3 separate regions of the Homo sapiens genome follow, and all the other regions are linked to region 3. Evidence: fine-mapped QTL for protein levels in blood plasma. Region 3 holds a variant in brackets. A gene starts in each other region. All regions are shown on their reverse strands. Region 1 holds the start of CD55 (CD55 molecule (Cromer blood group)). Region 2 holds the start of SELPLG (selectin P ligand). Region 3 overlaps ST3GAL1 (ST3 beta-galactoside alpha-2,3-sialyltransferase 1).

Evidence for each region. PIP is the posterior inclusion probability: the model's chance that the variant is causal. Protein levels are from antibody-based Olink assays in UK Biobank. Linkage for the fine-mapping came from a reference panel and not from the study's own genotypes, which makes the PIPs less certain.
Region 1: CD55 starts here. The variant in region 3 is fine-mapped to the plasma level of the CD55 protein (UK Biobank, PIP above 0.99).
Region 2: it holds the start of SELPLG, and the variant in region 3 is fine-mapped to the plasma level of the SELPLG protein (UK Biobank, PIP above 0.99).

Annotation. Positions count from the first base shown.
Region 1 is chr1:207,313,961-207,324,351 of GRCh38, reverse strand. CD55 (CD55 molecule (Cromer blood group)) reads right to left here and starts at 2,674. Exons shown (of 10, transcript NM_000574.5): 1 at 2,487-2,674; 2 at 1,785-1,970. The coding sequence starts at 2,586. LOC107985251 (a long non-coding RNA gene) reads left to right here and starts at 2,223. Exons shown (of 3, transcript XR_007066838.1): 1 at 2,223-2,666. LINC02942 (long intergenic non-protein coding RNA 2942) reads right to left here. Exons shown (of 4, transcript NR_186170.1): 4 at 10,171-10,391. RefSeq lists a silencer at 2,399-2,478 and enhancers at 3,039-3,248, 6,939-7,768.
Region 2 is chr12:108,628,985-108,639,790 of GRCh38, reverse strand. SELPLG (selectin P ligand) reads left to right here and starts at 5,897. Exons shown (of 2, transcript NM_003006.4): 1 at 5,897-6,051. MIR4496 (microRNA 4496) reads right to left here and starts at 3,981; the gene lies at 3,921-3,981. It overlaps LOC105369968 (a long non-coding RNA gene), which reads right to left. Exons shown (of 3, transcript XR_007063449.1): 2 at 3,554-5,460; 3 at 1-3,396. RefSeq lists a silencer at 5,086-5,135 and enhancers at 6,376-6,425, 7,834-7,983.
Region 3 is chr8:133,451,623-133,461,293 of GRCh38, reverse strand. ST3GAL1 (ST3 beta-galactoside alpha-2,3-sialyltransferase 1) reads left to right here. Exons shown (of 10, transcript NM_173344.3): 10 at 1,357-6,446. The coding sequence ends at 1,530. Among named protein-coding and RNA genes, the nearest start is that of ST3GAL1-DT, 110 kb to the left of the region's middle. RefSeq lists enhancers at 7,326-7,826, 7,827-8,327. The variant A/G (reference allele first, on the strand shown) is at 2,906.

The DNA of each region.
Region 1 (10,391 bases), not on the chromosome of region 3:
GAAGTAGAGTTGGTACACACATATCACTATCCCCACTTAAAAAAAAAAAAAAATTTAAGTTGCCTGGCCCAGTTCTGGCATTCAATAAATGTTGGTTTCCTTACCCTGCCCTAAAGAACTACACAGCACCATACAGTACAGGAATAGGGTATTTCCAGACCCCTGGACTAATGTCCTGCACAACAATAATAGCAGCTAATATTTATTTACGTACAAACTCATTTAATTCCCATGAGCCCTGGGGGCAAGGATGAGTCAATTGTATACATAAAGTATTTACACCTGTAAACAGATTGCCCACAAATTGTATACATAAAGTATTTACATCTGTAAACAGATTGCCCACAAATGTGAATCTAGAGAGGCATGGTCAAGTGGAAGGGTCATCATTGGATTTGTAGTCAGAAGACCCAAGTTTACACCTTGGTTTTGGCGTAAAAGCTGCTGCTCTTGAGGAAGTTATTAAACTACTGGGGTCTGTCTCCTCCGCCATAAAAAGAGTGTAAGAGCCCCAACTTACCTCATAAGGTTGTTTGGAGGATTGGATAAAGTAATAACATGGGGAAGAGTTAAAACATGATACATGTGCAAAGACTATGTACTTCATCCTACTGCCTCTATTGTGGATAAAAATAAAAAGTTAAAGCCTATTTCACGCATGGCTTCTAAAGGTATTTGTGCCAATTTCTGTATTTACAGTAGCTTCTATTGATTTAAGTTGTTCAAAGTCAGGTTATCGGGTCTCTTTATCTTTATCTCTACTCATATATCTCAAAGCTAATACAGGGCTATGTAAGTAACAGATTTTTTTCCTCCAAGATAATGCCAATATATATTTTATGAAATCAAAGGGCACATAAGGTGTGGATGACTGTATGTATATTCACCTAAAACAAGAAATCTTCATTTCTTTTAATTCTACTAGGTATCAGTATCAAACACGGTTACTGTGTTAGCCCCCAAACAACTCTTCACTGGGCCTCTTATTCATTTTTAACAATCAACCTATCTACCTGTCTATATCCCAGTTTATACATCTCTCTCTCCCTATATATATCTCTCTCCCTATATATATATATCTCCCTATATATATATATCTCTCCCTATATATATCTCCTTATATATATCCCAATTATATATCTCCTTATATATATATATCCCAATTATATATATCTCTCTCCCTATATATATATCCCAATTTATATATATACATATATTTTTTCAAAGTAGCAAGAAGAGAAGATTTGGAATATTCTCCACACAAACACCAAGTGTTTGAGGTACTGGCTATCCAATTACCCTGATTGATCATGACACACTGTATGCATGTGCCAGAATATCACATGTACCCTATAAATATGTACAAGTATAACAGATTTTGAAGTAAATATTGAGAGCTTTTAAAAATGCCACCACAGAGTTGTATTTGGTAAGTCCTACTTTATAAAATACTTAAGAAAACATATCATTTACGCTATGTGTCTCAAGGCAATTGCCAAATATATTTTATATGTTTACTCCCTAAACAATACCTATTGTTTATTTTCTCTACTAGTTCGTTCAAGAGGTACAGTGTTAGGAAGAAAAACTCTTAATGAAGCAGCAGGACCTACTCAGGGTGGTAAATGTCTTCAATTAGCTGGAGTGTGACGTGCCAACAGGGTATACCCTGGGGTTTAGTAACGCTAGAGAACTATCAATTACTAGTCACTCCAAAGGTATATAAAAATAAATTTAAGATACATTCCATTCCCAGAACTTTTCTAAAAAGATGAAGAACTTACGATTGCAGAACTCTTCAATATCTGACCATTGACTGCCCTTAAGGCAGATCACTGAGTCCTTCTCGCCAGGAATTTTCACAAAGCTTTCTTCACATTTGTACGTTATTACAGTATCCTCGGGAAAACTTGTACGGCCTTCCAAAGCTGGCTGGGCATTAGGTACATCTGGGGGAAGGCCACAGTCACCTAGGGAGACAAAAGCAGAACTGAAGGAAATGACTATCAAGTGTCCTCACAGTTGCTGTTTTCAAGACACAAGCCCCCTTGAAATGCCACACCTGAAAGAGATGACATGCAAGTTTGCAGCATCGTGTGCTCCACACGGCTGGACTCTGTCGAGAGTGGGGAACGGTCAGCGGTCTGGCCTCCCATCCTTTTAGACCAGCTTTTTGGGGGTTAAGGATACAGTCTCTTTGAGCCCTCCCTTTCGATTTTGCCAGGCTTGGCTGCTCCGCAAACCCAGCCGGGGCCTCTTTAACCCTCCACGCCGACCCCTAAAGCCAAGTCAGCTGGGGGCCGACACAGCAGGAGCCCCAAATGCTGGTGAGCGGCGAGAGCCTTAAAGGCACAGGACGGCGGGAACCACGACCGCGGGCCAAGCTCCCCACCTGCCAAGTCGCCGGCCCCTGTGCGTGTCTCAGAGACCGACTTGGACCTCCCACCCAGCCCAGGGGCTTCCCCGGCCGCCGGGCCCCTACTCACCCCACACGGCCGGCAGGCACAACAGCACCAGCAGCAGCAGCCGGGGCAGCTCCCCGAGGAGGGGCAGCGCCGCGGGCACGCTCGGCCGCGCGACGGTCATGGCGCGCCGGGTTAGAACAAGGACGCGCCGCCGGGACTCCGCCGAGTCGCAGCTACGCCCAGCGGCCGGAGCGAGTTGCAGTAAGCAGAAGCCTCGTGGCTCCGCAATACCAGTTAAATGAGTGCTTTGGGCGGGGTCTGGGCTGGGGCTCTGCGTCACCAAGGGTGGGACAAACAAGACGGGTGGAGTAGGGGTTTGTTGTGGTCAGAGGTGCGGTCAGAGGGCTCCGGCGTCATACGCCCCGGGGGCCCTAGACTCGGGGAGAGTGGGGAGGGGAAGGAGGAGGAGCTCGCTGGCAACACCCTCTGGGACTCACTCTCTCCACTGCTGGGTGGGGCCTGCGATGACCTGCCTTCTAGAAACCTAAATATCTCCTCGCTACGTAAACACAAACGGGGTGTAAACGGGAGAGGGGGAGGGGTGCTCAAGTATCGCAGGCCTTGCTGCCCGCACGTGAGTTCGTCTAAGCGGAGCATCCCCGCGCTTGAGTGCTGCCAAGGGGACCTGCAGGTGCGGTGGAGTTCGGGGGCTGAGACTCAGGCGCTGAGACGCGGTGCTCTACCCGCGTCTTGGGCCCTCTACTGGGAGGTCTGTCAAAGGCCAGCACGAGGGTGGGGAAATAACTAAGGAGGAAGGGCGTCATCTCCTAGAACACTCTCTAATGTGAAAACAGAGACCTGGGGAAACAGGTTGAATAACACAGTAGGGAGTGAACATTGTTCATGCCTTGTTCGGGTGGGAGTCATTTTCTTCACCCGGGTTCTCCTTATTTACGAAAGACACCACTTTGGGATTACTCCAGACTGACTGTAGAGAGAAATTCACCAGTGTGCGTGTGTGTATGTGTGTGTGTGTGTGTGTGTGTGTGTGTGCGCGCGCGCGCGCGCGCCTCGGGGCGGTGTGGGGTGGGATAACAATAAAAACAAACAGACCCCAAAACGCTGAATGGTGGTGGGGTGGATTTTAAGAGGAAGGCTTGTTACAAACCCTTTAGAATAAATAGCCTGAGGTTTGCAAGACTGGCCACACATTAGAATCACGTGGGGAGCTTATATATATATTTATATTTATATATTCATATATATTTATACATATATAAATATATATTCTTTAAGTTCTGGAATACATGTGCAGAACATGCAGGTTTGTTACATAGGTATACACGTGCCATGGTGGTTTGCTGCACCCATCAACCCAACATCTACATTAGGTATTTCTCCTAATGCTATCCCTCCCCTAACCCCCACCCTCCAACAGGCCCCCGTGTGTGATGTTCCCCTCCCTGTGTCTGTGTATTCTCATTGTTCAACTCCCACTTATGAGTAAGAACATGCAGTGTTTGGTTTTCTGGTCTTATGTTAGTTTGCTGAGGTTGATGGTTTCCAGCTTCATCCATGTCCCTGCATAGGACATGAACTCATCCTTTTTTATGGCTGTGTAGTATTCTATGGTGTATATGTGCCACATTTTCTTTATCCAGTCTATCATTGATGGGTATATGGGTTGGTTCCAATCCAGAGGCCCAAACTGCACCTTAGACAAATTAAATCAGCATCTTTGGGGATGGGACTGGGTATCAGGATTACTTAAAGTGCCACACTGTGCAGCCAGGTTTGAGAACCACAGACCTATATGGTACTGGTCAGAGTAAAGATCTATCCAGCTTAGGACCACCCCTGTCGAAAACAGAAAGGATATAGATGGCAAGGTGGGTTGCCCTTCTTCATAGAGAATAGCCTCAAGAACATGCTTCCCTGTAATAATTTATCTGGGTCTGGCTAGCAGAGTCCTAGCCTAGATTCCTTTTCCCTTAAATGCCTTACCTCGTTAAGTGAAATTCCCTACTTGGAATTATACTTTGGTCTATGGACCAGCTGTGGGGGTATTTGTTATATCCTATCATTATATTCTTTCCTGAAGGTTTTCTGATAGCTCTTTCCTGGTTGGTATGAGCTTTTTGAGGAGGAAAACAGCAATTTTTCAATCATAGCATTTTCTTTGACCCATACCTACTGTATAGAACCAAACCTTGTGTTGCCCATTGCTGGAGCCAATCCTACAGTGATTCCAAGCAAGGGACTACTGTAGGATTTCACTGAAACCTAACAATATTCGAACATTGTGGAGTTTAGAAGTTATGGTGGGGGGCTTTTAAAACCATCTAGTGTCATCCTCATATTTGATGTTAAAATATCTAACCTTTACTCCCATATTGGATATAAAAACACAAGGTATGTTAGGTCCTGGCAGTGTTTAGAAGTGGCATGAGGTCTTCATTTATTCCCCCAATAACCTCCAGTAACCTTAACCACCACTCCCTTCTGTCCTGCCATTAGAGATAGGTAATCTTCATTCCTGCTTGGGCTCACAGAATTGGTGTGAAAGGCAAGGTAGCATTATGAAAAAGACAGGTTCAAGCAAGACCAGTTATGCAGCTGTTAGAAGACTTAACATTGAAGTCTGTTAAAGCTCTCTACATGTTTATTATGTGAATGTCATAGCTTTATATGGAGAGAAAACAATGAGCTCTGCAAAGTGTCAAAAATATTATCTCTATCACACAGCTCAGTGACACTAAATGTCCTAAGCATTCACCTTCCAGCATACTTAGTTATTGGCAATAACTTTTTTTAAAAGGAAATTTTGGCCGGGCGTGGTGGCTCACGCCTGTAATCTCAGCACTTTGGGAGGCCAAGGCAGGAGGATCACCTGAGGTCAGGAGTTCCAGACTAGCCTGGCCAACATGGTGAAACCCCGTCTCTACTAAAAATACAAAAATTGGCTGGGCGTTGTGGCAGGTGCCTGTAATCCCAGCTACTTGGGAGGCTGAGGCGGGAGAATCACTTGAACCTGGGAGGCGGAGGTTGCAGTGAGCCAAGATCGCGCCATTGCACTCCAGCCTGGGGGACGAGAGCAAAACTCCGTCTCAAAAAAAAAAAAAGAAAAGAAATTTTACGAACAATTACTGGATAGAGTCTTAAGTAATAGTTACAATCAGCCAAATTTCAACATTCTGAGGGGAAGGAAACAAAGAAATCCACTATGTATTTACTCAATTTAGAAAAGAGATCTATGATAAAATCTAAGCATTCCTCAGAAAAAAGCAAATATGTGAATTTATAACTTACTAAAGATTATTTTAAATAAATGGCCTCATTTGTTGTGTTCCAGTTGCTTTATACACATTATACCATTTCACCAACACAACTTCATGAAGTGAAGATAACTATCCATATTTTGCAGACAAGGAAACAGGCTGAGAGGCTGTTTACCAAAGCCCATGCACTAACTAGCGACCAGGTCAGAATCTAAACCTAGTTTGATTCCAAAACCTGTACTTCTCCTGTCCTGCCGTACTACATTCTTTTTATTGGAATGAGCAAAAATTTCTTGTATGCAGAGGATGATGAATTAGGTACTTGGGGAGGTGATTTGGGAACCCAGGGGCTTATGATATGAGAAGTAGTTCCAAGGCTTCATACTTATCTACCAGAAACTATCAGTGTGTCCTCAGCTGAGTCACTGCACCTCTCAAGGGCTTATTTCTGCATTGATTAAATAGCATTTGGCACTAAAATAGTCTCTATAGACCTTCCAATCCAAAACAAGCTTATGTAATTAAGTCAAAATACAAAGAAAATAGGTTTATGATTTTGACAGAGCAAGGGACCACGGTTCTTACTCTTATCCCAGGAACCATACAATGACTAAATCAAAGACTGTTTAATAAACTTCCCTAGTATACAGAAACCCACTAAGTGTCAATACTTGTGTTTGAGAATCTACAATCTAGTAGGGAGGTTTTCCATGATAAATGCTATACAAATATCACAACCAAAGTGGTATGGGGCTTCAGAAAGGAAAGAAGGGAGTGTGGTAATTGGAGCGGGGAAGGCTAAAGGCCCAGTGATTCAACTAAATATGACAAGTGTCAATGCAATAGGGCAAAAATAGGAAAAGAGATGAGATACGAACAAAGGTTTGGGGTCAGTCCTGTTGATTCCAGGAATAGTAAGGAGTTTAGTTTAGGGAGAGTATGGAGAACTGAATTGAGGCAATGGCAATGGAACAAGAGGGTAAGAGAGGCTGGAAAGAGATTTGAGAGAGCCTTAAAGGCAAGGCCTGTGCCTTTTACACCATTCAGAAGCATTAAAGGACGGTTGACACTTGTAAGGAGGAAGCACCTGGGTAATTTGGAATTTGCATCTAAGATGCTGGAATGGGAATGGCTGTGTAAGCAAAGATCCAATTTAGCTAATTACAACAGTCCAGGTGTTTAGAGAACAAAAATGTCTTTTAGTTTTAAAATTAATAAATCTATATTAAGGAGTTCCAGTCCTGTTGCTCTGTAAAACTCCTGACACAATTATTATAGACTTTTGAATTTCCATTCCTGCTCTGACCAAACAAGTTTCAAAGTAATAAGCCACAGAATTTGGCAACTGATTAGATAAGGAACAGTGGGGAAAAAGATGTTGAAGAGGACTCGGAAGTTTGGAGTTTGTGAGATTAGCAGCCCTATTTAAAAGAACTATCCATATTCAGCTTTACACTTGTTGAATTTCAAATGCCTTGGCAGAGTGTCTACGTGGAAATGTCCAGCATGCGATTGAAACGGAGGCAAGATTGAGGTGGAGTGGGTAGAGATGTGACTGCAGGCAAGGTTTGAACCAAGGGAGCATAGCATGTGGAAATAGAGAAGCCCAAGGTGTGAGACTTGAGGAGCCCCACGTTAGAAAGTACAAATGACAGAGAAAGGGAAAGGAGAAGGTAGTGGAAAGGAAAGAGGATTGTGCAATTTCTTGAAAGCCAAGGAATACAAAACTGTGAGCAAATATTATCACCCTCATTGCAAGTGAACCAGCTGGTGTTTAGGGAAGTTAAGAAACTAGCCCCAAACCACATGGCTTGCTGGCAGTAGAACTAGTGCTTAGGATCTTAACACCTCTGTTAGACTGGCCAGGCAACATTCCTCCAGAAAATCTCCCTTGCCATTGCATCATACCTGGTACCTTCCTCTATGCTACCAAAGTATGTAATGTGCCTATCTATGCCTCACATCTGAGGAACCAGTCTATTTCATATTTACATTCTAACTCAGCCTAAATTTATTGCCAACTTATCTTAAAATAGCCAATGGGCGGGGGGTGGGGGTTGGGGGGAGCTTTATATTGAGGCATTTTTGTCATGCAGCTGCAAATACAGGTAATTCTGCTTCACAGAATAAGGGTATTTTTTAATAAATGAAAACAAATGAGTGGACTCTCCCATTTCTTATACATGAGTTCTTCAGGAATTCACTAATCAAGGTATCAGTGTATTGCAGCAGACATAGTAGTTTTTTTTTCACTAGGTGCAGGTTCAGCAGGACCTGGGAAAAAGTGGTCTAATTCCATGTGACATGTTCACCTATGAAATGGCATCCTGCCCTGCAGCTGACTTCCCTGTGTGTGTGAGAACAGGCTCAGCAGCCAGGGGGAAATGCAATGCTTGACTTATGTGAGCAAATATTTATTTGCCAAGATCTAACTTTCTGAGACAACAGTGAATTTTTGCTACCTCCACTTTGGAGGTAGGGGCAGGAACAAGAAAATGTGTGTGTGCACACATGTGAGACTGTGTTCATGTGTGAACTTCAAACACAAATTTAGGTTTTGCAATAGTAACATTATTTATAGGAGCAATTGGGAAGGTTAGGAATCTTGTAGCCTTTAGCTGCATGACTCCTGAGCCATAATTTTTAATCTTGTGGCTAGTTTGTTCATTTTAGTATGTGTGTGCAAGAATGTGAGAATATGTTTGCATGTGAGAGTGTATGCATGTATGAGTGTGTAAGCGTGTGTGTGCATGTATGAACGTGTGTGAGCATGTGAGTGTGCATATATGAATGTGTGTGAGCATGTGAGTGTGCATATATGAATGTGTGTGAGCATGAGAGTATGTGCATGTATGAATGTGAGCATGTGAGAGTGTGTGTGCATGTATGAATGTGAGCATGTGAGTGTGTGCATGTATATGTGTGAGCATGAGTGTGTGCATGTATGAATGTGTGTGAGCATGTGAGAGTGTGCGTGCATGTATGAATGTGTGTGTGCATGTGTGTGTGTATGAAAGTCTGAGCATGTGTGTGCATGTATGAATGAGTGTGCATGTGTGTGCATGTATGAATGTGTGTGAGCATGTGAGTGTGTGTATGAAAGCCTGTGTGAGCATGTGTGTGCATGTATATGAATGTGTATGAGCATGTGAGAGTGTATGTGCGTGTATGAATGTGAGCATGTGAGAGTGTGTGTGCATGTGAGAGTGTGGTCCAGCACCCAACCGCTCTGAAACACAAATTTCCCACTTATAAAACAGGTGTAATGATATTACCTCATAGAGGTTTTGTGAGGAATAAAGGAAATAATGTATGTAAAGCATTTGGCCCATTGCTTGGCACACAGTACTCTATAAATATTAACAATAATGAATGATCATGGGTGATGACATGAATGAATGTTTCCTATAACAAGACTTGGCCACTTTTCATGAAATCTATAAATACAGCCATGTCATGACATACAGTTTTAAAATTCTGTAAAAGCAATATGAAATTCTCATGTATTAGCAATGTGGAGATCATTTAGTTGTTTTCCTTATTCTTTCCCCACTCAGTAGTATTTTTCCTTTAGCAAAGATTAGGTCATTTACCAAGATTCAGAATTGTATAAACATTGGATTCTTTACCTCCAATGTAGTCCCATCTGCAGTTTGTTTCCCTTGATTTAACAGCTTGCAAGTTAAGCAGATTTACAATTTAAGCTTACTAGAATTGCACAAGGGTAAGGAGGGAAGAAAGAAGAAATTTACATTGAAGGGATCACCTTCCATTGATACTCTCACTTTGAGACTTAACCTTGGTTAACCATCCAGCAGTGCCATGAGTAAACTATTATTACTTACAATTGCACATGTTGGGACAGGTTCAGAGGGGGAAATGATTGGATAAAACAATACAGATGGCAAAGCCAAGCAAAATTTGAACCCAGTTCTGGGGAGATTTAAAATTATGCTCCGTCCACTCTACGTGTTACCTTTTATTTGTTGGTGCATAATGAAGACTAAAGCGTTCCTCGATCTTTCTCAAAGTGTTCATCGGTGAGTATTTTCCTAGCACTGTTCTTTCAGATGTCAAATAAAATCCATTTACCTATATGATGATCATTTCTCTAGGATAAATAGTACTTTCTCATATAGCCAAATGTTCTGCTATGAAGAAGGTAATTTACTTCAGACAAACAATAATTGCAGGTTTTGTTGAAAACACTTCTGTTTTCTCAAGTCCCCCATCTGATACCACCTCCTCTACTACTTCTGTGACATCCTTTCCCCCTCATGTTTCCAGACCATGTGGCCTCATTTTGATGTCATTTAGTCCATTAGCCCAAAGGTCTATAATAATTATGTCAGGGTTTGTTTGTGTGTGTGTCAGGTTTGCATGGAAAAGAACCAATTTAGAAACTTCTTACATAACAGAGACTTACCATATGACCTTATATTTCCAAGTATGGACCCAGGAAAAATAAAAATGTCTACAAAGATTTGTACATAAATGTTTATAGAAGCTTTATTTATAACAGCTACAAGCTGGAAACAATTCATAAGTAGCTGAATGGTTAAACAAATTGTGGCACTTCCATACAATGAATACTACTTCACATTAAAAAGGAACAAATTAATGATACACACAATAGGGATGAATTTCAAAAACTTGCTGAGCAGAGGAAACTAGGCACATAGAGTGGATATTATATGATTTCATTTAT
Region 2 (10,806 bases), not on the chromosome of region 3:
AGCTCATTGACCCCTGTGTCTAAGGCTTCAAACCCTCCATGGTTTCCCATCCCACTCAGAATAAAAACTAAATCCTCACCACTGGCTTAGGAGGCCCCGTGTTGCCTGCCCTGCCGCCCCTCATCCTCTCCTGATGTTCTCTTGTGTTCAGGAGGCCTTCTACCCCTGAGCTTCGCAGGTGCTGTTCTCTCGGGAGTGCCCATCCTTTCCCCACCTCCAGTGTCTGCCCTTCCCAGCACTTCACCTGACCCCCATATGTAAATAGTGCCCGTAGCACCTTAGTAGCACTGATAGCTGATCTATCATCTCATTGGAGTTTTGAGTGTCTTCCCTGAATTGAATATAAGCCGCATGAGGACAGGCACTGGTTTCCTTCACCAGGATCCCCAGAATCTGGCATGATGTGCCAATCAGTACTTACTGAAAGACTGAATAGTTGAAAATGTAGACATTATCTGGGATGGGAGCACATATTGCATTATCCGCCCAGCGGTACTTTGCTCACAGAATAAGACTGTCCCGGAGCACAGTCAACTCCAGGTGACCTATGAGCCCCTTGGAGCCACCATCAGTGGCATCAGATCTGGGTTTTCCTTTATGGGGGCCTGGGAGTTGGGGAAGCCAGGGACCACGCAGGCAGAGCAGATACACAGTGATGAAGAAAGGGCTTCTGGGTCCCTGTAGCTCCCCGAGTCCATGCCTAAGGTCCAGCTTTATTTCTGATCTTAAATTCCACAAAATATCCCAGGACTCCTATTGCCAGGCCCCTGGCCTCCTCAAACAACACCAAGGTCTCTCCCCTAAAGACCCCTTCCCAGGGGTCTTTGAGGCCAGGTGATTGAGGATGTCTGCCAGAGGCATGGATTCCTTCAGCCACTACCCTCTGGGGAAGAATCACGGAGTCTGGAGTACATTTCTAACATTTGTTTGCCCTCTGGCCTTCCAGGTCTGGGACCAGCAGCGCTGGCTACCCCCAGCCCAAGCAGACCCAGTGAGCTGGGGAGCCCCTGTTTTCTTCCACTCTGGAGGAATGGCTTCATGCTGCAGTCTCCAGCCCAGAAACTGGTTCCTAGTGCCGCCCAGATTGGCAGCGAAAATCTGGGGCCGAAAGTGAACTCCCCAGAGCTCTGTTCCCATTTGAGAAAGGGAATTGAATCCTGGCTGGAGCAGGCCCACAGTGGACCATTTCCCCTTTGGATGATTCAAATCAGCAAGCTGTAGCCCGTGAGCCCCCCTAGCAGCAGGGGAACGGGGGAGGGCAGGCAGCTGGGCGTGACTTCCCCTCCTCCCTTCTGGGCCTTGCTTGCGAGCAGCTCTGTTCTTATTCTATTTCATGAGACCGTTGCTTTCATTCGAACAAAAGGTCCCATTGTGAGTAAACTGAAAAGACCACTGCCCTGAGAAACAAGCGGCACAACCAGCAAGACTCTTGCTTTCCTCGGAGGAAGGAACAGGCTTTTAATGGGCTTTGCAGTCTGGCTGGGCTCCGGTCCGCCTGTGCCCTCCTGCGCCACCAGGGAGCCTCAGTTTCCTTGGAGGGACAGTGACCACTGGCAAGGGAGGTGGGATTCTATAAGCGACGTCACCCCTGTTTTCCCCATTTTTAGGGAAGCGGACACAGGTTTGCATAGGAAGCCAGCACCTGGTCGGGGAGGGATAACAGTTCCTGACAAGTTACACATAGATTATAAAATCTCAGGCTATACCTGGCCTGTCAGTTATAGTCCTTGCCTAGCCACATATGTTCAGGATTCCACAAATGTTTAATTTTTCATTTTCTTTAATAACTGTACTGTTGACCAACCTAAGCTTGGTAAATACCAGGCTGAAGCTAAGTTGCGCTGGCTTTTGGCACCCAAGCCTCCAAGCCTTCCTCTCTTTGTCTCTATAATATGAGGCTTTATTACAGCTGTGCTTGTCACTGGTGGGAACAGTTCCCCACCCCGAAACAACAAAGAAGCAAAACGCAATTAAATAGACCACTGCACACATGCAGCTGTACAGGCTGTGGTGTTGCCTCTGGGGACTGGGGACCACCATGAGGCTGCAGGCATTTTCATCCATCAGCGAATGGAAGGAAGACTGAATTTAGTGCACGGATGATCATTTAAGTATAAAGAGGTTATAGGTTGTTTGTTTGAATACCAAATCTCTAGTTGCTCAGGATCCACTTGTAAGAGAGCTCCAAGTAGGGGCCCAATGAGCCATGTTTTTGCTTTAACATGGGGCTGTTCCAACAGTAGCAGGCAGTTAGTTACAACCAGGAGCACATTTTTCTCAGAAGACCCATAAACAGCTCTTGCTTCCTAGGCTAGCCCACTACTGGGCTCCAGTGTAGAGAGGAACCTAACACCCACTGGCTTTGCTGATTGCAATTCCTGCTCCACACCCCAAGCAGGCTCACACGGTGTTGCGAGGAGGTGGGGAGAACTGGGTCCTCTTAGACCAATCACAGCAGGCAAGGTCTGCAAGGAGGAGCTGGAATCACTTATATATTGAACCAATATTTATTGTGATTGAATGCAGGCTCTTTCATAGGACACCCTAGGTTCAGACTCTGGCTTTGCCACTTACTAGCTCTGTGACCTTAGGCGAGTTTCTTAACCTCTCTGGAACATTTTTTTTAATCTACAAAATGGGGATACTAATAGTACCTACCTCATGAGGCAGTTGTAACAATTAAACAAAGTAGTAGACCAGGCATGATGGCTCATGCCTGTAATCCCAGCACCTTGGGAGGTGGAGGCCGGTGGATCACTTGAGGCCAGGAGCTTGAGACTAGCCTGGCCAACATGGCAAAACCCCGTCTCTACTAAAAATACAAAAACTAGCAGGCCATGGTAGTGAGCACCTGTAATCTCAGCTACTAGGAAGGCCGAGGCAGGAGAATCACTTGAACCCAGGAGGCAGAGGTTTCAGTGAGCTGAGATCGTGCCACTGCACTCCAGCCTGGGCGACAGAGTGAGACTCTGTCTCAAAAAAAAAAAAAAAAAAAAAAAAAAAAAGAAAAAAAAGTAAAATAGACATCATTATATACATTTTTTCTATATACAAATATAGAAAAGAAAATATATTTAAAAGGAAAGGGGCATTAATAATTATGCCACCCAGAGATAGGCACCGTCAGCATTTCTTTCAGTCTGTCCTCTCAGCATGCAAGCACACTTGAATTATGCTGTTTATATACTTCTGTGCCCTCTCTTTTCTACCTAACAGGTCTTGAGTGCTTTATAAGCATTCAGTATAAATATAACTTTCATGCCTGCGTCACATTCCATCAAGGGACAGGTTTCTGTAGTAGGGGAGTCTGTGTTTTTTCCCAATATTTCTCTCACCTCAGATATCATTGCTTCAATCTTGGAAGGCAACTTGGAGTATTTTTCTTGGGCTTCATTCCTAGAAGCAGAAACATATTCACTTTGAGTCTTTGACTCTCACAGATGTCAGGTGCGGTGAAGTGTGGTTTTATGGTCTTCACACAGACGACATACACCAGATTTATCTTAGCAATATTTGCTCCTCTGAGAAGGAAATTTCACTGCTCAAGTCTCACCTTGAAATAGATTACTTGGAGCTGGGCGTGGTGGTGTGCTCCTGTAACAGCTACTGGGGAGGCTGAGGCAGGAGGATTGCTTGCTTGAGACCAGGAGTTTGAGGCTGCAGTGAGCTATGACCACGCCACTGCACTCCAGATTAGGCCACAGAGCAAGACCCTATTACACACACACAGAAGAAATAGCTTACCTGCTGCTAAGCTACTCCTTTTTCCTTACATATAGTAATTGCTGATGTGCTGGAGCTCACCGTTCAGCCTGCACCATCCCAGGCTAGGGGTTAAGATCAAGAACATTATTTCATGTGCCTGGACTTGAGTCCTGGCTCTGCCATTACTCTGTGTGCCCTTGAGCAAGGCACATTCTCCCTCTCAGCTTCAGTTTCCTCATTTCTAAAGGCAGCTTCGAGGATTATATGAGCTGATGTATGCAAAGCACCTACCACAGGGTCTGGCATTGACCACAGGCTCAGGAAACGTTAAGCGTTTGTGTTGTGAGGCTTTGCAGGTGATGAAACTATTCAACTCTGCCGCTGCAACGTGAAAGCAGCCAGAGACAATATGTTTACACCAATTAGTGTGGCTGTGTCCCAAGAAAACTTTATGAAAACGGAATCTCGAATTTCGCACAGTTTTTATGCATCACAAAACATTTTCCAACCACTTAAAAATGTAACCACCATTCTTAGCTCACAAGCTGCACAAAACCACGTGGCAGGCTGGATGTGACAGACAGCTTGCAACCACTCACCTCCGCTAATCAGAGAGTGACCTGCAGGCAGTCTTGGGTGTGTTTAGAGTTTCTCAGTCCCCTGTCCCTGAAGGATGGCTATTTCCAAACCTGCTGGGGAAGGGTGAGGGGCCTGGGTTCTAGGGGTCTCACTTCCCCTCTTGTGGCTTCAGTTTCCCTGTCCGTGCCGGCAGGGTGAGCTTTTGGCTGTTTCCAGCTGCAGCTTCTTAAGGTGGCTGAGACTGTGTCATGGCGAACACCTGCTGGGTCTCTGGTTTTCATTTTAAAACAACCTGTGTGCGGCTGGGCACGGTGGCTCACGCCTGTAATCCCAGCACTTTGGGAGGCCGAGGCAGGTGGATCACCTGAGGTCGAGAGTTCAAGACCAACCAGCCTGACAAACGTGGAGAAACCCCATCTCTACTATAAATACAAAATTAGCCGGGGTGGTGGCACATGCCTGTAATCCCAGATACTCGGGAGGCTGAGGCAGAAGAATAGCTTGAACCCGGGAGGCGGAGGTTGCGGTGAGCCGAGATTGTGCCATTGCACTCCAGCCTGGGCAAAAAGAGTGAAACTCCATCTCAAAAAAAAAAAAAAAAAACAACTTTGTGCAAGGCAAGATATGAGTATCTTTCTGTGCATGTCCTGAGCCCTTGCCTGGTGCAAAGCCGCAGGGCAGATCCTGGGAGACCCCCCTATTCCCTCCCTTCTGGAAGTGTCTGGGTATTCTTAGGCCTCCCAGCCTTTGCCTCTGCTGTGCTCTCTGCCTGGGATGCCCACCTGGCTTGTCATCTCAAGTGCCACTTCTTGGAAGCTCCTCCTGTTAACCTCCCTCCCCCACCCAGGATGGAAGGAGAGGCCCCTCCCTTGCTCACCGCAGGATGGCACTCACTGCGCTGTGTCATTGTGGCATGATGTTCCACCGAATTGTTTACTCGCTGGCCTCCCCATTGGATGGAGGGCTACCAGAGGGCCACAGCCCAGAATTGCTGGCCTTTAGACCTCAGGGCATGCAGTCTGGAGTGCCAGAGTTGGTCAAATGAACAAATTTAGGATGAAGAAATAAGATAAGCAGGACTTGCCCTTGTGGTATCTGTAGTCCAGCTCCCTAGAGAGGCTCTTGGTTGCAGCTGAAAGGGCCTGTGCTGTGCATCTACAGAGAGTGTTTTGAGTCCTGCGAGAAGAAATACACCATATTTGCAAACCCTTTGAAGGTTCATATTTTGTGTTTTTTGCTCCCTGACCACCTCCCACCCCTCCCCACGCCCCACCAATCTTGGGCAAGAAGCGAGACCATTCTCCTTTTTCTCTGGTCACTCCTGTCCTTCAGGGGGCTCCCTCTGGCCCCGACTGTCCATTGCTGCTGAAGTAATGCTGTGGCCTTTCTCAGTTTGGGCCCCACCCAAAACCGAAGAACTTCTCCCCAGAAAGCTTCTACTTGGTTCTCAGTGTTTTCACAGTTATGGGAACCCAAGAACAGTGTCAGACCTAGGAGGTGCCCCACTACCACCCTGTCTTTATCAATGTTGTCACCAAAGCTGTCACAAACAATGGGGTGTGGGCTGTCACATGGCCCTGCCTAAGTAACCACATTCTCGCTTCCTCCTTCCACACACAGCCATTGGGGGTTGCTCGGATCCGGGACTGCCGCAGGGGGTGCCACAGCAGTGCCTGGCAGCGTGGGCTGGGACCTTGTCACTAAAGCAGAGAAGCCACTTCTTCTGGGCCCACGAGGCAGCTGTCCCATGCTCTGCTGAGCACGGTGGTAAGTGCTGGCTTGCAAAACCACAGGGAGTGGCTGGAGGTCCCCATGGGCCAAGGGCCTGCCTTATAGCTGCTGGCAGGCCCGGGTAGGACCGCCAGGCCCTTCTTGAGCTGCAGCACCTGGGGAGGGCAAACTGAGGCTCCTCCGACTCAAGACTAAAGTCTTCCTGGAGTCTGTGGCCTTATTCTGTGACTCTTCTGAATCCTGCTCCTGCCAACTTTTTTTTTCCTTCTTTTTTTGAGACAGGGTCTTACTCTGTCACCCAGGCTGGAGTGCAGTGGCACAATCATGGCTCACTGCAGCCTTAAACTCCTGGGCACAAGTGATCCTCCCACCTCAGCCTCCTGAGTAGCTGGGACTACAGGCGCACATCGCCGCATGCAGCTAATATTTTTACCTTTCCTAGAGATGGGGTCTCACTTTGATGCCGAGGCTGGTCTCAAACTCCTGGCCTCAAGCCTCTTGCGTTGGCCTCCCAAAGTGCTGAAATTACAGGTGTGACCCACCAGCCCCAGCCTCCCATTAACTTACTTCCCTCCCTGGCCAGTTTGCCTGCAGCGTCTGGCTTGGCGGCATTCTGATTTTGAAAATCAGAGAAACCATGAGTGTTTCCCTAGAAATGATCTTATCCTCTCCTTTCCTGGATGGGAAACTGAGGTCGGGAGAGGTGAAGGGATTTGTTTAGGGGCAGAGCTGAGATTAGGTCTGGAAGACTCCAGAAAGTAGGGGGAGTGCAGGATTTCTCTTGAAGCTGCATGTTATGGACGCATAAAAAAGTTCTTTTCAGAGAAAGATGCATTCTTCCCACTTTTTATAAGACTGAGGAAATGACACTTGTCTGTGGCAAACTATTAAAATATTAGAATTAAGATACTATTGTTAGCAAAAGGGAAAACAATAATAATAATAATAATTAGAATATTTGGCTGGGTGCAGTGGCTTACACCTGTAATCCCAGCCCTTTGGGAGGCCGAGGCAGGTGGTTGGCCTGAGCTCAGGAGTTCTAGACCAACCTGGGCAACATGGTGAAACCTCGTCTCTACCAAAAATACAAAAACTTAGCTAGGTGTAGTGGTGTATGCCTGTGGTCTCAGCTACTTGGGAGGCTGAGGTGGGAGGATCACTTGAACCTGGGAGGGGGAGGTCGCAGTAAGCCGAGATTGTGCCACTGCACTCCAACCCGGGTGGCAGAGTGAGACCCTGTCTCAAAAAAAAAAAAATTAGAATACTCTTATTAGTTTGTATTTGAGATACTTTCAGGACACTAAAAGGAAATGGTGGGGGCCAGTTGTGCCCTGCTGTACACACATTCACACACACACACACACACACACACACACACACACACACCCCATATTGTCGATATCTGGGCTTCTGTTGCCTGGAATTCTCTTCCTCTTTCCTCTTTCTTCTGTTTTCCTTTTTTTTCCATCTCTGACTTTGAGGCCCCCAGAGCCAGGCCCCTCAGTGGGCCGGGGCCTCAGAAGGTGGCTCCCAGGCCCTCAGACAGCCCCAGAGTCTCTTCCGAGGCCGTGCCCTGGGTGGTTGATGCCTCCCTCAGCAGGCTTGGCCAGCAGCCAGGGGAGTTAAACCTCAGAGAGCGGAAGGGCTGGGTTGCTAGGCTGGGCCCAGAGTGGGGCATTCAGAGGAGCTGGGGAATCAATCATCCGAGAACCTTGGAGGGTGGACAGTGCCCCTTTTACAGATGAGAAAACTGAGGCTTGAAGGGGAGAAGCAGCTGCCTCTGGCGGCATGGCTTCTGGCTGCAGGATGCCCATGGAGTTCGTGGTGACCCTAGGCCTGTGTCTCGGCTTCCTTTGCTGAACTTGAACAGGAAGATGGCAGTGGGGGCCAGTGGTCTAGAAGGAGATAAGATGGCTGGTGTGTGTGTGTTGGGGGTCTGTGTTTGTTAATCTGTCTGTCTACACAGGGGTGTTTAGAAAACTGTTTAAAGACAGTTGTTCAACTAACCAGATGTAGGTCTCATTGAATTCATTTGTGCCAAGTACCTTACTGCCTCTGGATCAGGCCAGCAAGTTTGGGTTCCAACAGGTGTAACTTGGTTCTTGGTGGGGTGGAGGGTAGGGAGGGGGGTGTAACAAAAAAATCTCAACTAACACTGTGGTTTGCAAGCCACCAAACATTAAACAGATATACAGCATATCTGTGCTATTAACTTTTCATGAGGAGGGCTGGTCACCGTGGCTCATGCCTATAAATCCCAGCACTTTGGGAGGCTGAAGCAGATGGATTGCTTGAGCCCAGGAGTTTGAGACCAACCTGGGCAACATGGGGAAAACCCATCTCTACAAAAAATTTAAAAGTAGCCGGGTCTGGTGGCATGCACCTGTAGTCCTAGCTACTTGGGAGGATCGCTTGAGCCCAGGAGTTCAAGCCTGCAGTGAGCTATGATTGCACCACTGTAGTCGAGCCTGGGCAACAGAGAAAGACCCTATCTCTAAAATTAAATAAATAAATAAACCTTTCATAAGGGCGATGATAAGTGGGAAAAAATGTCTACAGAGACTCCCTGATGTGAGTTGAGGTAGATGACGGAAAGAGGTTGCAAAGTGTCAGCTGGCAAATGTGGTGTGAAAAGTGTGAAGACAGCACGTGCTGTGCAGTTCTGTGCACGTTCCCCTGCCTCAGTCACATGTCCTCTTCTGCAGAGGCATTTAGTGAGGCCCCTGGGGATGCCAGGAGACCCAGGAGAGCTCCTGCCCTCCAAAAACTTGTGGTCTGGTGGGGGCAGCAGAGCAGACAGCCACAGTGGTTGCCAGCCACTGGGGCGAGTGTTGCGAGGGGTGTGTGCCTGCCCATCGGCTGAATCCTGGGCCTGTGGCCTGATCAGCAAGACAGCTGTGGTTCCTGCCTTCTGGAAGTTTAGGAGTCAATGTGAATACATTTTTAGAAAATAAATGAACAGCAGAAATGATTTAAACACGGGAGGTGACTAATCGTGCCTGGGGCAATCTGGAAAGGCTTCTGGGAGGACTCAGCATTTCCCTGGCCCTCTTCAACCCACAACAACCCCATAAAAAGCGGGTGCTACCATTGTCCTTGTATTCCAGCTAAGGAACCCACAGCTCAGAGAGGTGAGGTGAGTTGCCCCAGGTCACACAGCTTCTAAGGGACAGAGCTGGGGATTGACCTGGTTTGATGTGACTCCCAGGGCACAGCAGGGCAGGGCAGGGCCTGTCCTGTCTACCCAGACTTAGATCTGCTGCCTGTGCCTCAGTTATCTGGGGTCTTTCCTTCTCTTGGTGACTACTTGACCCAAACCCTGAGATGCTCAGTCTTTTGAATTTTAGCATTCCAAGATCCTGCCCGCTCTGACCACCAGTTTCAGGATTCTCAGTGCAAGGTTCCTAGCGGCGTGGAGCCCCACGAGGATCTTTCCTGAGCAGCTCAGGGCGGCCACACGGCGGGTTCTCTGGAGCTGGAGTCTGGGCCCCCTGCAGCCTGCTCCTCCACACAGCCTAGATGGGGCCCATATGGGGTCTAGATGGGGCCTGGGCCAGAAGCAGCCTGGTTTTAGGGCGAAAGAGGCAAACGAGCAGTCTCTGACCTACTCTGTTAGGCAAGTGTTGAGACAAATAGGACGTGGTCACTGGAGACGCCTCTGTCGGAGCCCTGCCCTGGCCCCACTTCTGTGGGACTGTTTTTTGGCCTTCCAGGAAGAGGAGAGGTGGAAGGTGGGGCCTGGGAGTGATCCCGCCGCTCCGGGCCTTGCTTGCTAATCAGTGTGATGGCACCGTTAGAGCCAGTGAACACAGGGGTGAGGAGGAATGAGGTCACCAGATAGTGAGAGGATGAAATCATCCCTCCGTGGGAGGGGCTTCCACATATGTCATTTTTATTGTTGTATAATACATTTACTGTAGCAAATATTAAGGAGGTATTATGCTACCTGCCATACACGGTGAGAAAACTCAGCTCCTCCCCCTTCTACCTGTGTGGCCTCAGCTGAGACAAGATCTCTCAGAGCCTCGGGTTTTCTTTTCTTTCATTAAAAAAAATATGTTTTTTTCTTAGAGACAGGGTCTTACTCTGTCACCCAGGCTGGAGTGCAGTGGTGCGATCATAGCTCACTGCAGCCTTGACCTGGGCTCAAGCCATCCTCTGGCCTCAGCCTCCCGAGTAGCTGGGACTACAGGCATCACCAGCATACCTGGCTAATTTTTAATTTTTTTGTAGATATGGGTCTCAGTATGTTGCCCAGGCTGGTCTTGAACCCCTGCCTTCAAGTCATCCTCCTGCCTTGGCCTCCCAAAGTGCTAGGAGTACAAGCTCGAGGCACCGTGCCTGGCTGAGCCTCAGATTTTCTTTCTGTTAGATGGGCTGATGCCTGCTCAGCTGTGGCCTGGCTCCAGGCTGCTGTGTCTTAAAGCCAGTGGGATGGCAGGGACCAGGCTGGGGTGACCAACAACCCCCCACCCCCAGTTTGCCTGGGAGTGAGGGGTTTCTGGGGTTGAGGGACTTTCAGCACTGACACCAGGAACATGTAGGATAAGGTGGTTGCTTTAGACGGGCCCAGGAAAGGAGGTCTGGGCTTTCCGAATGTACCAGGTCTTATCATAACAGGTACGGAGGTCTCTGCTTTCTCAAAGCCCAAACACCCACAGGGGAGGTAGAGAGGCCGCCATCTCCATACCCTCTGAGTCTGAGACCTCCATTTCCTCTGCTCATCTGCCTGCAGCGCCGAAGAGAGTCCTCCAGATAAAGTACCCCCGGCTGGAAGCCAGCGTCTGGGAA
Region 3 (9,671 bases):
AGGCCACACAGCCCCCACTTCCTCCCTGATGTTGGGTTCAGGCAGGGCCCTCACGTGTCCCTTCTTGTCTCATTCAGCCCAGCCCCAGCCCCACCCTGCCTGGTGCCTGGTGGGAATCTCAGAAAGGGTCAGAGGCATTGCAAGGCAGGTCCCCAGGCTCAGCCCCACCCTGGTGTTCCCAGGTAGAAACATGGGTGCCCCTGTCATTTCCCCACCCCACCCACCTCCAGCCAGCTGGTCCCAGACCCTTGCTTGAGGTTCTGCTCAAGAGCCCTTTCTCCCATCGTCCCACCGATTTGGCCCTAACGTTCTTGCCCTGGAGCAGGCCCATGTCCATGTTGCATTTCCTGAGAAAGCCACATGTGGCATGGTGCTGTCCCCGTCCCCTCTTTGTCCCCACCCCTCCAATCTATCTTCCACGCTGCAGCCCAGATAGCACGTCCTCTCCCTGGAAGCCCCTCCATGCAATTCCTTCTGGTCATCTTGTACTCATTTTCCAAGACCCAACTCACATGCCACCTCCTCTGAAGAGCTTCCTCTGACCTCTCAGGGCATAGCTCCTCCCTCCTCTGTGCTGCGGGAGCCCTGAATTTAGCCCCATTTCCAACAAGGACCACTCAGTCAGTGACTCCAAGAAGCTATAAGCTCCAAGGCTGCTTCCCCCTGCAGCTGCCCAGCTGGCATCTGATCAAGCTCTGCCTGAACTTCAGTACAGCCAGCAGGGTGCTGGGCTCAGAATAAATGCACAGGGTTTGTCATGTATGTGAAAGGCCTGGTCTAGTGGCCCTGAGGGCGCCTGGACCAGATGAATGTTGGCCACAGAGAAGAAAGGGATCAGCCCTGCCCTCTGCCTCACTGCAATCATGATTCTTGGACCCATTTTCCAGATGAGGAAAGTGAGGCTCAAAGAAGTGACTTCACATGCCCAGGGCACCACGGAGTGGCAGAGCTGGGATTTGGGGCAGTTTGCTTGGCCCCAAAGCCCTGCTCTCCTTCCACTCTCTTCCATTCCACGCCCTCCTTCCTATTCCTTCCCTCTGTAGCTCCTCAATCCTGGGAGAATAGGTTGCACTTGCTGCAGAGGTAAGACCCGGGCCCCTGAGACCACCCAGATGCAGTAATCTCTCAGGGTGCTTCTGGAATTAGACTTGAGTTTTACTTAACTTGCATTTGCTTCACCAAGACTCTGAGAGTTCCAGGAACGTAGAGAAGGGTTTTTAATGAAGGGTTAGTCAGAGTCCTTGGAAATGCTGTTTATGGTCCTGTGGGATTCCAGGAACGCCTACAGGCTTCCTTTCTCAGAGGTGCCACCAGCAGCCCTGCTGTCTGGTTCTCATCTTTGCTTTGCTCCCACAGGTGGACTTGTACGGCTTCGGGGCAGACAGCAAAGGGAACTGGCACCACTACTGGGAGAACAACCCATCCGCGGGGGCTTTTCGCAAGACGGGGGTGCACGATGCAGACTTTGAGTCTAACGTGACGGCCACCTTGGCCTCCATCAATAAAATCCGGATCTTCAAGGGGAGATGACGCAGTGAAGGGCTGAGGATGGACGCACTGTCACACCTCTGCATTTCCAGCCCCAGCATCTTGCTGGAGCCGTTCCATCCCGGAGCTTGGAGGGGCAGCCTCAGGTGTGTGCCTGGGCACCGCTCACAGCCTCTTGCACCCAGCCGTTGGCAGCATCTACTCAGCAAGGTCACTAAGCTCTGCCAGCGTGGCAGAGCATGTCTTGGAACCTGTCTTGAGTGGGGACAACGTCCCCCCACTGCTGCCCTAGAGCTGGGGAGACGCTGGGAAAGGTTCAACCTCCACACACTAAAATCATTTTGGCTCCTGGGGCAAGCTTGGGGAATGAATGTGGAAGATGCCTATATTCTGAGAGACAGGACAGTTTCCCAGGAAGATGGGCAGAGACTTGAGTGGCGATTACCTCCAGCACAGAGACGTGCCAGGCGGTGTTGGCGCTCGGGGCGAGATGCTGCCCTTCTTTGCACGAAGCCTGGCCTCTTGCTTGGCGTGATAACCCTGTCATCTTCCCAAAGCTCATTTATGAGCCACCAGAGGCTCCTACCCCAAAGATTTTCACAGAAACTTGAGGCCAGGTGCCGTGGCTCACACCTGTAATCTGAACACTTTGGGAGGCCGAGGCGGGAGGATCACTTGAGCCCAGGAGTTCAAGACCAGCCTGGGCAACATAGTGAGACTCCTGTCTCTACAAAAATAAAAGATTTAAAAAAATTAGCCAGGCACGGTGGCACACACTTGTAGCCCCAGCTACTAGGGAGGCTGAGGAGGGAGGATCTCTTGTGCCTAGGAGTTCGAGGCTGCAGTGGGCTGTGATCACACCACTGCACTCCAGCCTGGGCAACAGAGTGAGACCCTGTCTCTGAAAAAAAAAAAAAAAGAAAAGAAAAAAAACCCCAAACTTGGCACCGTGTTTCTGACTCCTGCAGATGCCTCTTCCCAAGCAGTTGTTCCTTTGAGTAGTCAGTCTCATGGTTCTAATCGTGGCGAGAGCGGATCTGACCACTTCCATGTGCCTTTGTATTTGGGAAAGAAAAGCATGCATTGGCTGAAATGAAACAAAAGCCCTTACTTGGGAAAAGGGACCCCCACCAGCGGCCCTGCTTGCTCCGTAGCTGGGAACATCTTTTCTGGTTTCCTGAGCCAGCACCTGAATTGCAACGAAGCTCTGAGGATACTCAACACCACCCAGCAGTGCGTCAGAATGGAACGTACATTCTCATTCTCAGACTGTTCAATATGGTGCCCGTAACCTCCAAAGCCACACAGGAGGCTGCCAGCAGCATTTTCCCCAAGGGCCTGAGCTCAGGGTCAAGTCCCTGCTGGCCATCTTGGGGCTGTCACTGGGGGTCTGGGTCAAGGACATCCCAGGAATGGT[A/G]ACTGCCACATACCTCATCTTCTTACTCCCCAGCTACTCTCTTTTCCTCATTAGCCTTCCTGATTATTTATTGATTTCTTTTTTTTATTCAACTGACATTGTTTGCACCCTGGCTCTGTTGGTGGTCCTGGTGTTTTAATGAAGCTTGCCTCACCCAGTAGCTGGGAAATTAGGTGGGGGTGCTTAAGGGAGGTTTGTAGGAGTCCTCGGACGTGGGATATTGGGGGTATCTAGGGCTTGGATGGTTTGTGGAATGTCCTCAGCATCCTCCCGTCCCAACCCAACCTTCCTTCTTCCTCATTGTGGACTTGGATTTATTCTCAGGCTAGGAGTCTCCAAAACTCCGTGAAACCTTATTGCTGCTGGGTGTGGAGTGGAGAGTGACAGGAATGTGGGGGACGGTGATTGTTGGCTCCAGTTACTAATGTTTAAGCAGAAAAACCACTTTCTTGTTGAAAATATCCCTGAAAAGGTCGCTGCTGCTTTGAGGAGGCGTGACTTTTTCCTGGTGGAGTGTGACGGAGGCATGGGGCCTGTGCTCCCAGGCTCGGGGGAGCCCCCTCTGCACACGGGGAGGGAGGAACTTGGGGACATCAGTCATGGGTCACAGGTGGCTTCAGGCCATTCACAAGAGTCCCCGGAAGTTGCGTGCCAAGTTTGGTTTTTTCCCTGAATCTCTGCATATGAGCATTTTTCTGGAGAAAGGACCATAGCTTTTATTAGATTCTCAAAGGTTCAGAATGGGGAATGTGTTAAACAAACCGAAAACCTGTTTCAGCTTTAAAATCCTCCAAAACTTTAAAGACTTTTCTTTTTTCTGAGAAAGGCTGGTAAATCACTGAGTCATCATTCAGAACATACAGCCTCGAAGGGCAGAGCTCACACCCATATATGACGTTAAGAGCTCAACAAATGTTTGTTGAGTGACTGAGTGACCCCAGGGGCAGACTCCAGATCATCAGACACTGATACAGAGAGCGATGCTATCTCCTCAACTCTCCCTCTTCTCCTAAAAGCTGAGTCTATATAGGGATGACAGGCTCAGGCTGAGCAGTCGACTTCTCTGGGTTTTGCTGTGTAAGAATAGGTCCCTCAACATGAAGATGTGTCTGCGTCTGAGCCAGATGCTGCCTGGGTCGGTTGCCTGGCCTCCGTCTGGTCTCCCTCCCTCCTACTAGGGTGGTCAAGCTGTGAGATCTCTTCCAGCCTCCAAATCCAGCTTTCCCATTTTACTGATGAGAAAATCAAGGCCACATTGCAGCTGGGTGGGGAGTGGAGCGTGACAGGCACGGGAGAGGACAGCGATTGTTGACTCTAGTTCCTGATGTTTAATCAGAAAAACCACTTTTCCTGTAGAGCACATTTCCTAAAAGGCTGCTGCTGTGTAGGGAGGTGTGGCCTTTTCCTGGTGCAGTGTGAAGGAGGGAAGTGACGGGCAGTCGTGAACTGTCTGGGACAGATAGCACAAGTCAGAGTTTGAGCAAAACTAGGGTGTTACCGGCGCTATGTTGAAATTGTCTGGAGGCGGGCTTTCCCAGCGAGTCTCCATTCAGCATCTGGAAAAAGTGTAACCAGAATGGAGGTGTCTGACTCTCCTGTGCTCTCTCAGCGCCGAGCTCTAGCTGCAGGCTGCCTGGGTGGCCTTCTCACACCCTCCCGTGCAGGAGACTGCATTTCTCTTTCCCACAGCCCAGCAGATAGCTCATTGGCTTAGCAATGGGCACTTAACAGAATCCAGTTGTTGCAGCCAGAATTAAATGCACCAGTCTGGCTTAAACCAACTGGAACTCATCCCTGGGGTGAAGGTGGCTGGGAATTAGACAAGAGTGTGTGTTAGCCAAAAGGCACATGCATGCTGTCAGCAGGAGAATGAGGAGCACTGGTTCTGGGCAGGCAGTGGCAGGGGCTCCCTCAGGCCCCTGATTCCCAGCCCACAGCTCTTTCTACTCTGCAGACAGAGTTCCTTGGAGACTGGCCCTGCATTCAGGCAGGGAGCAGAGGGGTCCCTGCCTGCAGCACCCAGAGCTGAACCTGAAGCTACAAAGATGGGCTGATGAGGTGGCCCATGAGGTGTCAGCAACATCCCAACCCCCTGGGTCTCCCCAGTGAGTCAGGGCACTGATTTGCTATAGCTGGAGCTACATGCACCTCTCCTCCCCTCAGCCACCTTTTAGGGGAGAAAGGAGGGCAGATTTGTAACCTCTGGTTCTCTGCAGGGATCCTGGGCTGGAAGAAAGTTCATAAATGGATGAATGCCTTTTAAAACTCCAGCTTTTCCAAGCATCATTCACCAAAGCATTTGGTTAGGCTTAGAGAGAAAAGCTGGATATGAGAAAATAGAATGTAAAATAGGAGGGAAAAAAAAAAAGAAGGTGGAGAGGGCAGTTAAGATCTGGGTGATTCTTTAGGGAAACGGCTGGTTGAGAGGCTTTGATGGAATCCCATTCTCTGCTGTGGCCAGAAGGTGGTGCTAGAGGCCAGTCCCACTTGGATGTGACCCTGGCCTCTGCCAGGATTCAAACCACAAAGAACATTTGGAACTGGGATGTTTGCTTTGAAGCAGCCCGAAAACAAGTGAAAGGAAACCAAGATAACTCTCTCTCCCTCCGCTGGCAAGGATCAAAAATACCTTGTGCAGGGAAGCCCGAGCCTCGAGGGGCCACTGCCCAGCTAAAGATGACTGGACACCAGCCATGCACCATCAGGAACCAGCACCTGTCCTCACCCCTGAGAAGAGCCCCGGGGGTATCATTATATCCATCGCAGACATCTGGTTTGCAGCAAATGTGGCTACACGCCATCAGGATTATCCTGCCCTGTGGACTGGGCTAGCTAGTTTTGAGATAGAGTCAACCTCCCCATTTTTGTTTGTCATGAAAACACCAGCTCCTGCACCCCTGGGGTGCTACCTGACACCTGTGCAAAGAAAAGGAGGAAAACTTAGAAGAAAAGGCAGAGACAGGCAAGACAGCATCTCACAGCTTGTCAGGATCAGGGCATTACCGACTATTTTTTCTTACCAAAAGAGCACTGAATTTCCTAGGGGAAGGTGAGCCACCTTTACACCTCCTGTCCTCCCTCCCAGCCCGTCAAGCGATCCCATCACCCAGCCTCATCACTCAGCTTCTTCCTAGTACAAAACTGCCATCGGTTGTACGTCCTGAGCTGTGGGACGTCAGCTTTAACCCTAGCCTGTCTCAGGGCCTCGCCCTCCAGCCCCCCGCCCCTTAGGGTGATCGTGGGTTTCTTCCCTTCCTCCTGCACAATCGCTTCCCTTCACTGAATTCCCTTCAAAGCCAAAGTTTCTTGAGCACTTTTTCTTGTGTGCAGTCTTGTGTGTTTGGGTGTTGGTGTTTTTAAATTTGCTTTCTATTCCCCCCTGCCTCTCTCCATGTCGTTACGCAGCTGAGCACTGGTTGGGATGCATTCGAATGACTTCAGCAAGATCCTGCTTTCCTCAGCCCCCGCTCTGTTTTATTTATTGTTTAATATTTCCAATGATCCAAATCAAAGTGAATAAACAAAGAGCTATTTTATTGTTTGGGTGTGTTTGTTGCTTTTCTACAAGGGTCATGCATTTGCGCCTCCTTCAACACTCCAACTCAGAGGGCCTCCTGGGTTGGCGTCGCCACTACCGAATGGCCAGAATTCAGGATACAGAGGAGAGCCCCAGCGTAGGCCTTGGAGAGGCCTCTTCTCAAGCCCAGGAGTCCCATTACCTGCCGTGTGACTGGCGAGTCACCTAAGTTCTCTGAACCTCAGCTGCGTGTCTCATGTATTAAATGGGCGCGACAACACTGGCCTTCAGAGGGGATGTGGGAGTAAAAACAAAAGCATCTCCAGAGGCCCAGTAGACATGCACCACCTGCTTGAACGTTTGCTGAGTGAATTCACCTTGGCCAGGGCCTGATTGGGCTGGGCTAGTGTCTGTCCTCCCCCGACAGAGACGGGCACACCCAGGGATGGACAAGAGTTTGGTCCAAAGTTGGCACTAATCTCCCTTTAAAAAAAAAAAAAAACAGATTCAGAAACCCAATGTTGCGAGCCTGTAAGATAAAATTGGTATACACAGTAACCAGGCCTCCCAGTTTGTATGGCACACAATACCTCCATGGGCGTGATCTTTAACTCAGAACAGCCCTGCGGGCTGCTGCATGGCTGAGGGCGGAGGTGGGTTCACAGCCAGGCGCCTCTCTCCAGTCCCGGGCCTCCTGTCTGCCCTGCCGCCTCCCTGTCACTCTGTGCTTAGCAAAGACGTTGAGTTATTTGAGACACTGTCTATGGGGACCTTCTGAGGGCAGCCCCCAGAGGAAGGATGGGGCAGAGATTCACACAGGGGCTCTGGAGCCAGGCCGCCCTGGGTCCTACCTATTAGCTGTGTGAGTCCGAGCAAGTTACTTAACCTCGCTGCCTAATCTCCTGATGGATAAGTTTGGAATGATATAATACCTCTATATAAATACACATAGAGGATAAAATGAGTTAACACACGCAAAAGGCTTACAACAACAAATGTTAGTTATTAGTACATCAGACACGGGAGAGGAGAAGGAGCTGTGTGCAAGACTGAAATGAACAGCAAGGCTCTGTCGGGGAGCCCGGTCTGTTTCCCTCCCCCCATGCCTCTGTCCTGCTCCTGCCCCCTGCCACGGGCCTTCATGTTGCCTGTGTATCTTCTTTAAGTTGTTTCTTCAACTCTAGAGTTCCCTTTCCTCCTTGCCCTATCACTTCTCTGTCCTCTCCCTACAGGGCCCTGCCGTCATCTGGCGCTAACACGCGCTCCCACCCAGCCATCCGTTCTATAGGAGACACAGCCTCCCCCAAATTCGCTCCTGGTTGGCCTCACATCACAGCTGCAATGTGGACCAGCGGCCACGAGGTGGTGCTATGCTGCAGTCGGCCCCGCCGCCCGCTTTTCCAGGCCAGCTCTGTAGGGCTCCAGCGCCTGGCCGCCCTGTCCTGCACATCGCACCCTGGTCTCAGGCTAGAGCCCATGGCCAGGGAAAGAAATTGTCAGGGCCCTCCTTGGACAGCCCTGAGGGCCTAAAGGCATTCCTCCAAGACACCCCGGCACCTGCCTGGAAGCTGGGACCAGAGCCAAGGCCCATCTGCTTCTGCACCCCCCCGACCCCTCCCCAAAATGCAGATCCTCCCAGGATTTGGCCTGGGAACGCTGGGAAGTCCTAGGAATAACCGCGAGGCTGCTCCAAACACATGCTTGGCCGTCAACAAAAAGCGAAGGGACTAAAAAGAAGTTCCTAAGTGGAACTTTCCGATTTCCTCTTCGCTTTCCCAGGATATTTAATGTGCACAGGGATTGAAAGGAGAGTGTGGCGACCCTGTTGGGTCATTCTCTACATTCAGCCATGGCTGGTGTTTCCCACCCATGCCCCCTCGTTTTTCTTTTCTTTCTTTTCTTTTGTCGATGGCCCACAGTGACCAGGGGTGACCCTCAGAGGCTGCCACTTTGCCCCTGACTGTGAGTGAGCACCTTCCAGGGGCAGCCGTCCTGCCTGACCACAGTGTCACCTAGCAGGGTAGGGGGTGGGGGTGGCCCTGTCCTCCAATGTCCAGTCATAGGAGCCTCCCCGCTTGTCCTCCCAATGCCTCTGGCAGGTGGTTTATTCACACAGGATTCACTGAATGTCTGCATGCCACAAAAGGAAATTGTCTGTGTGCCCTCAGAGTCTCCTCCCCTACTAGGGGACAGAGGCTATCTGAGGCATGTCCAGGAAGCTGATGCCCTAGGGGACCTGGAGAGGAAATATCTATGATTCTCCAGGCCTTCCTCGCCTGCTGGGGAAGAGCCAGCCTCTGCTGTTTCCATTGCTTCATTCAAGGATTCTGGGGGTCATTTTCAAACACCTGTGGGATATTACCCTGATGACATTCCCTATAGCAATGATGGTAACAATGTATCTATCTGCCCTGCCCCCTCCCTCCCTCTGATGCCTGTGCTGGGCCCAACCATTCCTGGAGAACAAGGTGAAGCTTCATCCACGTGTCAGAGTCAAAGCTCTCCTGGTCATTTTCAGCTGAAACTTGAGGTCCTCATAGTTCAGCAAATTCCAGGTTACCTGCTTCTCAGAGATGCAGCTGTTACGTGCCCGTATCCCCCCAATATCTTGCAAGTGCTTGACTCCAGTCCTACTGCTAGAGACTGAATTGTGCCACCCCCACCCATGCATATGTTGAAACCCTAAGACCCTGTTGGGGTGGTATTTGGAGATGGGGCCTTTGGGAGGTAATTAAGGTTTGATGAAGTGACTGGGGGCTCTTATGATCAGGTTAGTGCCCTAGAAGAGACCCCAGAGACTTCTTTACCATGTGAGGCTGCAGTGAAAGGCAGCCATCAGCAGCCAGGAGGAGGGGCCTCACGAGAACCCCACCACGCTGGCTCCCTGATCCCAGATTTCCAACCTCCAGAACTGTGAGAAAATACATTTCTATTTAAATCAGTGATCTATGGTATTTTTTTAATGGTAGCCTAAGCTGACTCACATGCCCACACTAACACTGCCACCATTTCACAGGGTAAGGGACCTCAGGCAGGCAAGGGACTTGGCCTCTTTGAGCCTCAGTTTCCCCCCTCAAAATATAGAAGTAATAATAACACCTGCCCTGAAAGGTTGCTGTAAGGGGTAGACTAATGACCCATGTCTGCCAAGCAGGGGACATGGAGTAGCGGGCTGCAGATGGTGGTCGAGGAGGGAGCTTGGTGCAGGGAACCATTTTCTCCCTCTCCCCAGCCCTAAGCCCCCCGAAT